Regions from separate parts of the Homo sapiens genome. Here region 1 is linked to region 2. Evidence: fine-mapped expression QTL. A gene starts in region 2. The other region holds a variant in brackets. All regions are shown on one strand. Distances are from middle to middle.

Evidence for each region. PIP is the estimated chance that this variant, and not a neighbour inherited with it, causes the effect.
Region 1: its variant is the best candidate, but not a certain one, in a credible set for the expression of GAS8-AS1 in gastroesophageal junction (GTEx, PIP 0.70).

The regions. Positions count from the first base shown.
Region 1 is chr16:89,193,711-89,197,949 of GRCh38, reverse strand. CDH15 (cadherin 15) reads right to left here. Exons shown (of 14, transcript NM_004933.3): 13 at 4,037-4,195; 14 at 2,458-3,088. The coding sequence ends at 2,795. SLC22A31 (solute carrier family 22 member 31) reads left to right here. Exons shown (of 9, transcript NM_001384763.1): 8 at 541-652; 9 at 1,645-2,189. The coding sequence ends at 1,951. Among named protein-coding and RNA genes, the nearest start is that of SLC22A31, 4.7 kb to the left of the region's middle. RefSeq lists an enhancer at 3,512-4,177. The variant G/A (reference allele first, on the strand shown) is at 2,196.
Region 2 is chr16:90,027,511-90,032,013 of GRCh38, reverse strand. It overlaps GAS8-AS1 (GAS8 antisense RNA 1), which reads left to right and starts at 2,113. Exons shown (of 1, transcript NR_122031.2): 1 at 2,113-3,115. It overlaps DRC4 (dynein regulatory complex subunit 4), which reads right to left. Exons shown (of 11, transcript NM_001481.3): 2 at 4,292-4,378; 3 at 518-715.

The DNA.
Region 1 (4,239 bases), 830 kb after region 2:
TGGCCTAAAGTAAGGAAACTGTCTGAGCCTAAAACACCTGCCCCAGCCACAGAGTGCAGCACAGGCATGAGAGGTCAAGAGGCCGGGCTGGGTAAAAGCTCTGCCCAGAGTTCCAGGTGGCCGAGGCCGGCCATGGACTGGTGTGGGAGGGCCCATATACTCAGGGCCAGCCACATGGTGTGTGGAGCTAGGTGCAAAATGAAATGCAGGCCTTGCTTCCAACGTATTCGAGATTTTAGGACGGTTCTCGAAATTGCAAAGACAGTGGACAGCACAGCAGTAGCTGAGCGTGGGCCCGAGTGGAGGTGGTCGGTGTGGCTGCGGCTCGGGGTCAGGATTCTAACATCCTTAGAATCCAAGCCAGGCTGGAATCAGGCTGCAGAGGACAGGTTCCCCCTCCAGGTTTCTCAGGGGGGCTGGAAAAGGAGGCTTGGAAAGTGGGTCCCCAGACAGTGGTGTGGTTCTCTGGGGAAGGGCCCTGAGTGGCCAGGGTGGAAGGCCTGGGGAGAGAGCCTGGGAACCCCTGTTCTTTGTCCCCAGATCTGCCAGGCTGGACTGTGCTGTTCCTCTCTGTCCTGGGGCTCCTGGCCTCCCGGGCTGTGTCCGCACTCAGCAGCCTCTTCGCGGCCGAGGTCTTCCCCACGGTGATCAGGTGAGCTTCAGGGTTGCCCGGCCACACAGCAGGGTCCAGGGCCTCTCATGGGGAGGAGGGGCCAGGTGGACAGGAGGCCCTGTCCCCATACCCCACCCAGGTTCCTGCCTGTGATTCCTCCATCCAGTAAGGACTCGGGGTAAAGCACTGCCCTGCTCCTGGATGGTGGGGGCCACTGCTCACAGAAGGCTCTGGGCAGACGGCTCAGGAACTGGGAAGGGGAGGGAAGGCCACGCAGGCCTGAAGCCAGGAGTGCGGGGTGGGGGCAGAGATGAGGAGGCCTCCAGAAATGGCAGAATTCTCGGGGAAAGCATCACTTTTCGATCTTCTTCTTCTTCTTTTTTTTTTTTTTTGAGATGGAGTCTCGCTCTGTCACCAGGCTGGAGTGCAGTGGTGTGATCTCAGCTCACTGCAGCCTCCAACTCTCTGGTTCAAGCGATTCTCCTGCCTCAGCCTCCTGAGTAGCTGGGATTACAGGCACCCACCACCACGCACAACTAATTTTTGTATTTTTAGTAAAGACAGGGTTTCACCATGATAGCCAGGATGGTCTCGATCTCCTGACCTCATGATCCGCCTGCCTTGGCCTCCCAAAGTGCTGGGATTACAGGCATGAGCCACTGTGCCCGGCCACTTTCCAGTCTTGAACAGAGCAAAAAGTGCTCCAGGAGAGGAAGGAGGTTTTTCCAAAACAATTTTTCAAATTATCCTCAGCCAGCAAACCTTAGGCTGTGCGGAGGCCGGGCCTTCCCCCTGCTCACTCTGGAGTCACATGTGTGTCCCCCAATCTGTTGCCCCACCAGCTGCCCCCAACGCACTCTCTCCCACAGAGGGGCCGGCCTGGGCCTGGTGCTGGGGGCCGGGTTCCTGGGCCAGGAGGCTGGCTGCCCCCAACACACTCTGTCCCACAGGGGGGCCGGGCTGGGCCTGGTGCTGGGGGCCGGGTTCCTGGGCCAGGAGGCTGGCTGCCCCCAACACACTCTGTCCCACAGGGGGGCCGGGCTGGGCCTGGTGCTGGGGGCCGGGTTCCTGGGCCAGGCAGCCGGCCCCCTGGACACCCTGCACGGCCGGCAGGGCTTCTTCCTGCAACAAGTCGTCTTCGCCTCCCTTGCTGTCCTTGCCCTGCTGTGTGTCCTGCTGCTGCCTGAGAGCCGAAGCCGGGGGCTGCCCCAGTCACTGCAGGACGCCGACCGCCTGCGCCGCTCCCCACTCCTGCGGGGCCGCCCCCGCCAGGACCACCTGCCTCTGCTGCCGCCCTCCAACTCCTACTGGGCCGGCCACACCCCCGAGCAGCACTAGTCCTGCCTGGTGGCCCTGGGAGCCAGGATGGGACCAAAGTCAAGGCCTGGGGCATGGCTGAGTACCCCAGACGTCTGGTCCAGGGCAGACACATTCCTCTCAGAAGCCCGTGTCTCAGTGCAGGTGGAGCCGTGGGGACAGCGTGAAGGTGTCTCCAGCCAGGCCCCAGGCACTGGGAGGCCCTGGGTCTCCCCCCAGCCACACCCAGTAGGTGTGGAGGATAAAGGCTTCTGTGGAACTTGGC[G/A]TCCTCCCTGGTTCTTCCCTCAGGCCACACCTGGGGCCTGGAAGGGTCTCACCTGTGCCTGCTCCCCACCTCTGGGCTCACCAGCAAGGAGCCAGGGTGTCAGCGGCTGCTCCATAGCCCCTGTCCAGGTAGTGGCAGCCCCCGGCCGCCTCCTGCCCCAGCCAAGCAGGGTGGTATGGGGGCCTGGCCCTCAGGTCCCTGCCAGGCCAGGCCTCACTGGCCCCATCCCCCTCATGGTCAGTGTGGCAGTGGGCGCCCGTCCTGCATGAAAGAGACTAGCACGTTTTTCATTCAGATTTACCCAGGAGGTTGCTGTCTTTCATACAAAGATGAGGTTCACTGGTAGGAGGCAAAGGTGGGACTAGGGAGGTGACCCGCATGGGGCCGATGGAGAGAAACTCTTCCCACCCCGGCAGGAAGGGGCCTCTTCCTGGCCGCCCCATCCACACTCAGGTTCTGCCCCCAGACTTGGGCCCTCGCCTACAGGAAGGAGGCTGCCCCAGGCCCAGGGGGGTCGGGCCCGGTGACCTCAGGCTGCCTCTGCAGGGGCCATCACTGCCACGAGGCCGGGGAGTGGCATGTCCAGTTGCGCCCCAGGGTCAGGCTGTCCGGCCTCTGTGTCTGGGTAGCAGTGCCCCAGGAGAAAGACCCTCCCTGGCCTGGTGGTCCCATCTGGCCCCGTACTCCAACCCGCACGGGTGCCCATACATGTCTGCCAGCCGGGCGAAGCGGGGCCCCCAGTCTCTGAGGTAGTCGTAGTCCTGGTCCTCATCGCCCTGGCTGGACAGGATGGAGCTCAGCGTCCCCGCCACCGAGCCGTCACCCTCGTAGTCATAGATGAGGGCTGTGTCGTAAGGCGGCACACTGGGGTCACTATCTGCAGCCTCCAAGCCCTATAAAGAGGCCCGGAGAGCTCAAGACACATGGAGGGGCCAGCGGGTGCCCCACCGCCGTGGCCACAGCCCAGGGCAAAGTCAGCTCAAGGCACGGGCTCAGGAAGGGGAAGCTGCCCACGTCCGGGGGCGAGGTCTGAGGGGAGGCAAAGCGTCCTGAGGGCACAGCAGCAGGGTTGTGAAGAGGGTGCCACGGACTACCCCCTTCCTCAGTATTAGGCCAGCGGCCAGCCCGTCCCCCGGGGCTCTGCCCTGCCCCAGCAAGGTGGGAAGGGGTTGCTCCCCCTCACCCTGGTCTCTTCCTCCCCGTGGCCCTTGTCCACTCAAGGCAGAACCCGAGCCTCCTGGACACCCCCATCCGCAGAACGGCCCGTCTGCCTTTCGGAGGCTCTGTCTGCATGTCTGTCCTCTCAGCTCGTGGGGACACACGCTCCTAACCGGGGGTGTACACCTTGGCTGGGGGCTTTCTCTGAGCCAGGTGCTACAGGTGCAGACAGGCACAGAGGAGGGTTCCCTGTGCGCCCCACACCCCAGATTCCCCGTGTGCACATTCATCCTGTGGATGGCAGGGAATCATTAACGCTGTGTCCAGAGGGTCTTCTATGGAGGCCCTGATTCCGCTGACAGCCACCGAAGCCCAGGGGATGCTCCCGGGGCTCCCCCACCCCCTCCATGGTGGACACGGGGCAGTGGATGGGTCTGTGGCCATCGCCACTCCATCTGTGCAAAGACCCGCGTCGCGGGTGGAGGCTGAGGGCCCAGTTTGGACGGTGGCAGCGGGGCTTCCACACTCCCGCCCGCACACCATCTTCCTCTGCGGTGCTCTGGGACGGCCCATAAGTGCATGCAGGCGCCGGTTCTTGCATGCATGTGCAGGTGTGTACATGTGCATGTGTGTGTGCACCTGTGCGTGCCTGTGTGTACTGGGGTGTCCCCAGGAGCACCTACATCATTGATGAAGTCGGCGATGTCCAGGGGGCTGGTGGGCAGCACTCGGGGTGGCTGGGGGTGCAGGCGGCCCTGCGGGGCATCTCTGCGAAGTGGCGGCGGTCCCAGAGGCAGGCTCAGCGCTGTCGGGTGACGCAGCTGGCTGATGTCGTAGGCGTCCTGTGGGCGAGGAGGTGGAACAGAGCCAGGCATCCCTCGGGTGG
Region 2 (4,503 bases):
GACACCTGGTCACTTGCACCTACCTGCTCACCTGCACATACCTGCCCCACGTGCTCACCTCCCCACACCTCACCTGCACATACCTCCTCACCTGGCCACGCCTCCTCACCTGCACACACATGCTCACTTGCATCCACCTGCTCACTTGCATGCCTCACCTTTACACAGCTACACATGCCTGTTCACCTATGCAAACCTGTACACTTGAGGCACAGAGCAGGACACCAAGGCTGGGAGGTGAGGTGCATCCCCAGCTCATGGGGTATTAAGTGGCAGAGCTGAGTTGCAAACAGGCCAGTCTGCCCCCAGAGCCCATATTCCTTCCATGTTGTGGAGGCAGCATTTTAAACCCTCAGGACCTGCAGGGTCTCTCCCTCAGGCTTTTATAAAAAACACCTTTAAGGCTGTGACTCCCAAAGCCAAGAACAGAAAATGTCCCACCTGCACCCTCACTGGATCCAGCTCCTCTGGGGCTCTGTGGTGACCAGGTTAGCACGTGCAGGCCGGCCCCACTCACCTTGATCTCCACCTGGTGCCTCTCCTCGGCTTCTTCCATCTCCCGGTCTTTGTTCCGCAGCTCAGCCTTCTTCTCCTCCAGCTGCCTCCGTGTGATCTCCCAGAAGGTGTGGATCTTGTCCCGCTCCAGCTGGAAGTAGTTTCGTTCCTCCCGCTCGCGGTCCAGCTCCTCCCGGATGCGGCTGACATGCTCCTCCACCTGGCCAGGTGCAGTGGGTCAGGTGAGGCACTGAGCAGGGGCCCATGCACGGCAACGGGGCGTGTGGCCGGCGAAAGGCAAGGAAGAAAGAGGGAGGACTCAACTTCACCTAAAAATAAACAGCTAAATGTAAAAAGTTAAAATATAAGGCTAGGAAGCTCCGGAGACAGAATGCATTCAGCAGGTGGCAGAATTCTCTTCAATTTGGCCAATAATCATAAAATAACTAGATCCTTTCATCCATTCCTGAGAATTGATGCCTAAAAAATTTCTCAAAAGAAATATAAGAGCATCTTGCTCAAAGATATTACCCACACCATTATTACAACAGCAAAAATATCAAAAAGGAAATAACCTAAGACCAGTTTAAACAGGGAAATAAGCGAGGCGCGGTGGCTCTCGCCTGCAACCCCAGCACTCTGGGAGGCTGAGGTTGAAGGATCCCTCGCGCCCAGGAGCTGAAGACCAGCTTGGGCAACATAGCAAGACCCCATCTCTGCAAAAACTTTTTTTCATTAACTAGGCATGATGGCACGCACCTATAGTCTCAGCTACTGGGAGAGCTGAGGTGGGAGGGTCACTCAAGCTCAGGGGGTTGAGGCTGCGGTTAGTTATGATCATGCCACTACACTCCAGCCTGGGTGACAGAGTGAGAATCTGTCTCAAAAAATACACAAACAGCCAGGCATGGTGGCTCCCACCACTTTGGGAGGATCTTTTGAGCCCCAGAGTTGAACAGCCTAGGCAACATGGCAAAACCCTGTCTCTACAAAAAAAAAAAAAAAAAAAAATTAGCCAGGAGTGGTGGCACATGCCTATAGTCCCAGCTACTCAGAAGACTGAGGTAGGAGGATCGTTTGGACCTGGGAGGTCAAGGCTGCCGTGAGCCGTGATCACACCACTGCACTCCACCTGGGTGACAGAGCAGGACCCTGTCTCTAAACAATAAATAAATAAATATGGAAATGGTTGAAAAATTAGAGTATATCAACTAGGAGAAATATCACATTAACCCAAAAAAAATATGCAAATGATGTAGCAGCATTTAAACAAATTCATATCATAATGCTAAATGAAAAAAAATTCACCTTTGAAGATATAATGTTAAGCAAAAAATATACAAAACCAGTAGACTCTAAAATCTCAAGAGGGTTCAATTGCGAATCTGCAAATAGGTTAAAAAAAAATGTAGGACAGGCTTCCAGCTTTCTCGGGAGCTCATTTCCCTTAAGAATCAGTTACTGCCAGGCGCGGTGGCTCACACCTGTAATCCCAGCACTTTGGGAGGCAGAGACAGGCAGATCATGAGGTCAGGAGATCAAGGCCATCCTGGCTAACACGGTGAAACCTCGTCTCTACTAAAAATACAAAAAAATTAGCCGGGCGTGATGGCAGGCACCTGCAGTCCCAGCTACTGGGCAGCCTGAAGCAGCAGGATGGTGTGAACCCAGGAGGTGGAGCTTGCAGTGAGCCGAGGTCGCGCCACCGCACTCCAGCCTGGGCCACACAGCGAGATTCCGTCAGAATCAGTTACTTTTCGGGCACAGCCCCAGGCCACTTACTGTGAGCCTTTTTCTTTCTCAACACCACATTCCCCACAGGGAAAACACATTTCTCACCTCAAAAGAAGACAAGACAACGAGCAAACAAGAAGGAGCAGCAGGAGGGGTTCTGAGCCGAGGATGCCGGGCAGACATGAGGGAGACACGCACCCCCGAATCCAACCAGTGCCTCGGCACAACGACAAATGTCTTCACGTCACAGACCTTTAGAGGCTCCTGGGCAGAGCCTGAACCAGGGCTCCTGACTGGTCTGTTTGGCTCACATGGTGTTGAGATTTTGCCATCACTCAATATTCAGATTTCTTATAAATATCCAGATTTCCAGCTTCTCTTGGAAAATCAGAAAAAAACAGCACTGAACTCCTAGGCCCACAAGGCACTCCCCAGTGAACAGATGAAACTGTCCTCTGCTGCGGGGCAGGAGTCTCCAGGTCACCCCCATCCCTCCCCACCTGCCTGGACCCTGAAGAAGCCTTCTGAGTCTGTGGCTCAACGTGCGATGTGCAGTGCAAGGGCCTGCCCCGTAGCCTGCCCCGTAGGCTGCCCCATAGCCTGCCCCGTAAGCTGCCCCGTAGCCTGCCCCGTAGGCTGCCCCGTAGGCTCCATGGCCACTGCCCCACAAGGCCTGTCTCCACAGGAATGGGAAGCGGACAGGGAGACGGGCAGCAGCTCACATGCTGGGACAACGCAGTGTTCAATCCATTCTCCATCCAGCAGCTCCAGACATCTTTCCAGAACACAAACCTGACCCCATCACCTCTCTGCTTAGCCACTGGCTTAAACTGCCAATGGTTTGCCTGCATGTAAAATAAAGCCATTCTTTACCATTGTTCAAGGACCTCTGCCTAGCTCCAACTTCAGGTCATGAGACTCTTTCAGTCTCCTTCGTATTGATTTTTTATCTTACAACTATCAAAAGAAGGTAAGATTTATTAACAATAACACAGAGTTGACACAGCCCTCATGTCCCATGTCAGGTGCTCACAGGCAGTCGTCCATGAGGGCAGAGGCCAGAGGGTGCACCGTGCTTGCCACACACTGCCGTCTCCAGGAGCCTTTTAGGTAAAATTGTAATTATGTAATTATGTTCTGTAGCCCTTAACTACATCCAAATGAAGAAGAGACTTAAACTAACTCCTACAAAGAAACTATAAAAACATCACCTCCTCCCCAAAATAAGCAACAAGAAAAAGGCAGCCCTGATGCTGTTACTCCTTGTTGGGACTTTTATCAAAAACAATGAATGACTGGCCAGGCGTGGTGGCTCATGCCTGTAATCCCAGCACTTTGGGAGGCCGAGGCGAGTGGATCACGAGGTCAGGAGATCGAGACCATCCTGGCTAACACGGTGAAACCCCGTCTCTACTAAAAATACAAAAAAAAAATTAGCCAGGCGTGGTGGCAGGTGCCTGTAGTCCCAGCTACTCGGGAGGCTGAGGCAGGAGAATGGTGTGAACCCGGGAGGTGGAGCTCACAGTGAGCCGAGATCGCGCCACTGCACTCCAGCCTGGGCGACAGAGTGAGACTCCGTCTCAAAAAAAAAAAAAAAAAAAAAAAAAAAAATGAACGATTAATCAGATTCAGATGTGATTTGAAGTAAATCATCCTTCTTTCAAAAACTTCCTTTTTGACATAATGTTTAATGGTGAATAAAATAAAGGAGAATGCTACATGTGTGTTCTACGATAAGTCTATACACATCAGGTGCAAAAAAAGGGTAAGATTGAAAGAGAATACACGAAATTAAAAACAGCTTTTAGATCAGAAAAGCATGTCCTTCCACACTCCTACCACCCTGTTACAAAGCTCTTTCACAGGCTGCACTACCTTTCTGAAAAGACATGGTGCAGCCGAAAGCTTTGCCGCTGATGGGAATTATGGGCCACGCGGGGGGCGTGTTCTGGCTTGGACAGAAGGGTGGATCCACATGGCAAGATGGACACTCGGCGTAGGCACCCTGCGTGGTGCCCGCCCACGCCCACCCGGGGACTGGGCCACAGCCCGCTCTGCTCACCTGCTCCTTGCTCATGTCCTCTGGAGCGAGCCCATCGACAATCGGGGTGCCTTTGGCTTTGCCTTTCTTCCCTTTCTTTTTCGGTGCCTTTGGTGGAAATAATGGGGTAAGAGAGACTCTAACAGCTTCCCCTTCTTGGCTGGCTCTGATTTGCTCCCAGGAACATTTGGCAGAGAAGGTTCTGGAACCTCTCTCCCTTCTGCTCACCTGGA